2 separate regions of the Homo sapiens genome follow, and region 2 is linked to region 1. A link means that fine-mapping ties the variant in region 1 to the expression of a gene that starts in the linked region. Tissue or cell type: thyroid. Region 1 holds a variant in brackets; the other region holds the start of a gene. All regions are shown on one strand. Distances are from middle to middle.

Evidence for each region. PIP is the estimated chance that this variant, and not a neighbour inherited with it, causes the effect.
Region 2: it holds the start of SLC34A2, and the variant in region 1 is fine-mapped to the expression of SLC34A2 in thyroid (GTEx, PIP above 0.99). The same link has a PIP of 0.9 or more in lung.

Annotation. Positions count from the first base shown.
Region 1 is chr4:25,445,596-25,448,352 of GRCh38, forward strand. The region is part of intron 3 of LOC105374536 (a long non-coding RNA gene); the gene reads left to right. Among named protein-coding and RNA genes, the nearest start is that of ANAPC4, 70 kb to the left of the region's middle. The variant A/G (reference allele first, on the strand shown) is at 1,276.
Region 2 is chr4:25,654,310-25,657,066 of GRCh38, forward strand. SLC34A2 (solute carrier family 34 member 2) reads left to right here and starts at 1,542. Exons shown (of 13, transcript NM_006424.3): 1 at 1,542-1,581. RefSeq lists an enhancer at 992-1,905.

The DNA.
Region 1 (2,757 bases):
GCTCTCAGAGTCAGATGACCCGGCTCAGCTAGCACAAACTGGCAGTGTGGTCTTGGTGAACCCGATAACCACCTAGACCATCTGTTTCTTCTTCTGTAAATGGCAGCCATGGCCTCGCTCTCACAGCACGGTGTGTGACATAGTCTGCCCCTGGCTGAATTGCCACCTGCACCTCCCATAGCCTCCTCTTAGGTCCCTCTTCTTAAGACATGCCTAACCTCCCTGTGCTGAGATGTCCCCTGTGCTCAAAACTGCCTCATTAGAGAGGCCTCCTCATCCTACAGACGAGGTATTAGCCTCCTTGCCCAGGCCCTCTTTCTCTCATTCTCCCACTTTGCTTTTCTGCCTAGCACGCGTCTCTCCCTGCAATTATATGATGTGATTATTTGTTTGCTTATTAAATCATCTCTCTCCTCACTAGAGGGTAAGCACTGTCAGGGCAAAGAGTTCTTTGCCTGACTTGCTGCCATCGGGCCAGCACTTAGAGTAGCCCCTGTTGGTGTTCAGTGTGGAAATCTAGGAGGGGGAACACCCTTGCAAAGGTGCCCTCTGGAATGGTGAGTGGAGTCCAGTGTTGAGAGGTGGCAAGACCAAGACAGACTCAGCCACCTGCCTGCCGTCCTACCTTTCCATTGATTCTTCCCAGAATTCCACATGGAGATAATGAGTTCTCATTTCATGTTTAGAAAGAGTTGGAGGAGGCAGAGGAGAACTGCATGCGTGTGGGCATGGGCGGGGGGGACCTCTGATATAGAAAAATGAAAGATGATTTTGTTTTTTCTGATCAGGACCAAAGACCAAGCTATTAGATATTTCCTTAAGTGCTTTTTTAGTGTGGATTTGGAGAAATAACTTGGAGGGATGATTGCTCTCTGCCCCCACTTGTACAGTTCTTAAAATGCTGGAGTTGGTTTTTGCTATTGAAAAAGGCAGGCAGCAGCCCCCAGAAACCTCCTGAGGGTGCAGATGAGGCAGGGGCCCCAGCAGACCCCCAGCTGATGGACACAGTGTCTCCCCTTTTGGGCGTGGCCTGCTAACAATGACCTTTCTGGAAAGCCTTTGATTCTGGCAAGTGTCCTCAGGCTTCCTGGTACCTGTGACTGAGAAGAGTCACCTGGTGAGAAAAACAATGTTTTCTCTGGTCCAGTGACAGCACTCAAAACCTCTCCAGGGGTGAGGGAGAAGTATGCAAAATGTTCCTGGGGTGGGCTGGGTGTCAGATGACTCCTAAAACAAACGGAAACAGACACTCAATGGAACCACAGTGGACTCTCC[A/G]ACATTCCAGAAAAGTGGGGCGAGGACCGAGGGGACTCTCCAAGATTTCAGGGAAGTGGGGTGAGAGCCCCAAGAGTGTTTCCTACAGATGGGCAGGGCAGGATTTGAGAGTAGGTGGAAAGTGTTTACAGCCAAGCAAGCCAAGTTCGTTAATTAAAGGGTGGTTTAAAATATTGCGCCCAAGGGTCCCGGCATGAAATTCATCAAATATTAGAGACCTTGAAAATTGGTGCATGACTTTAGCAAGCAGAAAAGCTCAGCCAGTAATGTAGTGAGCACCATGTACCTGATACCTAGGTTTAGGACATTTTAGCACTTTGCCATATTTTCTTCAGATTTTATTTTCTAAAAGTAGAAACTGTTATAGACACAGTCGAAGTCCCCTGTGTATCCCTCCCCAATTCTTTCTCTTTCTTCCCTCCCTCTGAACTTGGCTATGATTTCCAGGCATGTTTTTATTTTATTACTACAAATACTCTCTCCATAAATAGCTATATTACTGTATGTATTCTTAAAGTTCATGCCTAATGTATAATATAAAGCTGTTATTATATAATAATATATAATATGTATACATATAAATTACAAATGATTATGTCCTTATACAGACAGCCTTCTGCAACTAACCCTTTCTTTTTTTGCGGGGGGGATGGAGTTTCATTCTTGTTGCCCAGGCTGGAGTGCAATGGCCTGGTCTCAGCTCACTGCAACCTCCGCCTCCCAGGTTGAAGCGATTCTCCTGCCTCAGCCTCCCAGGTAGCTGGGATTACAGGCACCTGCCACCATGCCATACATAATTTGTTTTTGTATTTTTAGTAGAGACAGGGTTTCACCATGTTGGCCAGGCTGGTCTCGAACTCAACCTCAGGTGATCTGCCCACCTTGGCCTCCCAAAGTGCTGGGATTACAGGTGTGAGCCACCATGCCTGGCCAACTTACCCTTTTTGTTGTTCAATGTTATGCTTTGGGGATTTGCCTGTTTTCATACAGAGAGCTGCAGTTCAGTCAGTTCAAGTCTGAAGTCTAGAGTATTCCACCAGGTTAATACACCACCAGTTATGTATTCATTTTTATGCTGTGGGCATTTAGGATGTTGCAAGTTTGTGCTGTTACTTCAATTAACACTTTCCTACCAGTCTGCTTGTCTTCTTGCTATAATGCGTCTAGAGGGTGTATCTAGGAGTGGAATTCCTAGGTCAAGGGATCTGCAAATATCCAGCCTTACTATATGTTGCCAAACTGGACTCCACAGTGATCAATACCAACATAAACTCTCACTAGTGTTGTGGAACAGTTCCTGTGGCCCTGCCTGCTTACCAGACATTTAGTGTTGCCAAAATGTGTAACTTTTGGCCAGTCTGGTGGGTAGGAAACTTACTGTTCAGTATTTGAGGACTCGAGAGCTAGGAAATCCTTAAGAGGGAAGGTTACTGACAGTTTTTGAGGACCTACTCTGGGCAAGGCACTGCAACACCGTCTGCT
Region 2 (2,757 bases), 210 kb after region 1:
GCTTGTTGCAAAGGTACTGGTTGATCATTGTCTGAGAGTTGGATCTGAAGGCCAACACCCACTAGCAAAACCATCATCCCTGTAATAACAGCAACCCAAGCAGATTTGATTTCTCCAGTGAAGGTTCTAGATGAGTCTAATCAAGGCTTCCCACCCATCTTCTCCCAACACCAGAGTTTCCCTGTGAAAACGATCATGGTTAACTCGCACTGAATACTATTTATGTGCCAAGTACCATTCCACATTCTTTACATATTTTAGCTCACTTTACTCCAACGGGGACCATTATTCCCAGTTTGCACATAAGCAAATGGAGCCAGGGAAAGCAAGGGGCAGAACAGGGAACTGATTTCCCGGAGTTTCGGCCCAGAGTCAGTGTGCTTAGCCACCGCCAACACCAGCCCCAGAGCTCTAGGCTCCTGGAAGTCGTGCTCCCGAGTCCTTCCCCTTGCACAGTGGAGAGAACTCGATGTTGGAATGAAACCAGCTAATTCCAGTAGGGTGCTTCCGCTGTTGTGAGGAGCTGGGCAACTAGTAAGCTCACTGAGCCTCACTGTGCTCCACTATAAAACCAGGAGAGTGCGCAGCAGAGGAGAGGGTCTGGGTTTCAGAATAAGAAGCAGGTTTTCTTCCTGCTCAGCAAATCCTGGGTAATTGTATCATATCCCCTAACCCCTTAAACCTCAGCTAGAGAGGGCGCCAGTCTTAGCCCCAGGGAAGGCTTTCGTGTGCACATTGGAGACAAAGCCTGCCCAGCAGTGCCCGGCACAGAACTGGGGAGCTGTTGGGATAAGCATGGGGGTGGACTCTCCCTGGGACAGATCCTATCTCACAGCAGTTTGGAGAACTGTTGTATACACACGCAGGTGACACGAGGCAGAGCAGGATGTGAAACGAGCGCAGTGGTTTGCCAAACCCGCAGCAGGCTTAGGACGGAGTGGTGAGAACAGCCCCCTTCCTTTTCCTCAGCTTGACGGTCCCAGCCTTTCCCATTGCGGACCTAGAGCCCAGACTCCCAGGGCAGAAAGCGCCCCACAGACTGATAAAGGTGAACAATCCAGGCTTTGTTTCCAAGGGCTTTATCCCTGACTTTCCAACTGGCTTTTATCTGTGTCTTCACGTCTCTGACCTCTTGAGCCTCACAGGAGCTAGACTAGAAGGTTCAAGTTCTTGAGGAGAAGGCAGGGGCGGGAGAGCCCCACTTGCGGGAATCTCGTGCGGACCGAGTCGGGGCGGGAGAGGGCGCGCACCAGCCAGGCTAGGGCGCGCGGGGCGCCGAGGGGCGCGGGGCCGTTTGGGGCCGTTCGGGCCAGTTCGCGCGGCGGGGCCCGTCGGAGCTTTTCTCTCGGCAGCCTGGCTGGCCGCGCGTCTTCTCCGCGCAGCGGGCGAAGTCGCGATGGGTTCATTAAGGCGGCAGGTAGGCAGTGCCCCGGCGGCGGCTGCGGCAGGCGGTCCTGGAATGTGCGAGGGGCGTGATGACAGCGGCCAGCCTCTTTGCGCAACACCTTCGCCATATATACCCGGGGCGCTGCGCTCCACCTGGCCGCCGCCTCCAGCCCAGCACCTGCGGAGGGAGCGCTGGTGAGTACCGCCGCCGGGGCAGGGGCGCTTCCTCGCTCTTTCAAGGACTTTGATTCACTTAATTCTTGCAAATACCTCTCGGTGCTGACTTCAAGGAACTTGGCTGGCTTTGGGCCGCAGAAGTGAAAAACACAAAGCTCTCCACAATGTTCAAGTTGTTTTCTTCTTAATGTTACGGTTATTGCTTTTATTACAGCTTTTGCTGCTACACTCTTACGATCGACAGTGTTATTAATCAGCCACACTTGTGGATTCTAAAATGATCACTGTTTTGAGAGTCGTGGTTTGGAAGAGGAAAGGCCCAGGGGATAGAAATCTCCACCTAGGAATCAGGATAGCTAGGCTCTTTGTGGCTGGGTCACCAACTAGCCATGTGACAACGCTAGTCCCTGTGAGCCCCTGGGCTGCCGTCTTCCATTCTTTATAAGAAGGGGAATGCGACATCTCAGGACCATGAAAATTCTAGGTTTGTGGTGGCTGCCTGGTGATGTGACACTGCCCCCCACCCAAGTGTGACTTCCACGTGGTACAGTGCTTGTTTGCAGTTATTTAAGGTGCCTAGGAGACAGTCTTAGTTTGTTTCTATTAGGGCCCGTGGCCATCAGCGAAGGGTCCGTCCTTCAGCCGTCTTGGGGAGCAAAGCCCGCAATTTATGTTTTCCAAGCCACAAATGGGTGAGCAGGCTGGGGAGATAACTTACAAGGAGATGTGCACAGGAGTGGTTGGGTTCGGGGACTGCGCATCCTCAGGCCAGAAAGTTGGGGGCTGCATGGCATGGAGTTAGTTCAGGTTCCCTGCAACGGTGCCTGCCACCGGTGGCTCGCACTGCGCTGAAGAGAGTTGGAATCTCGTTTTCTTTGAGGAGGTCCCTTTTTCAAACATGTTGATTTCATGGAAGCAGCTTGTGGATTTCATCACTCGAGTCCCCTCTTCCTGTTTGGGTGCCCCAGGGGGTTTCTGTGTTAGCCCTGATCGCTCTGGGCCTTGTCGTTCTTTCCTTTTTCCTTCTTCCCTTGTGTGCTGGCAGTTCTTTAACTTGTCCTGGGTTGGGTATTCTTGGAAAACTGTGCTTGTAGGAGTGGCCGTTGTTTCAGATTGTTAAAGAAAAACAAAAATAAAAAAGATTGCCTCTTTTGTCCCATGCCCGCTGATCATGATCTTCTCTGCTTTTGTAAT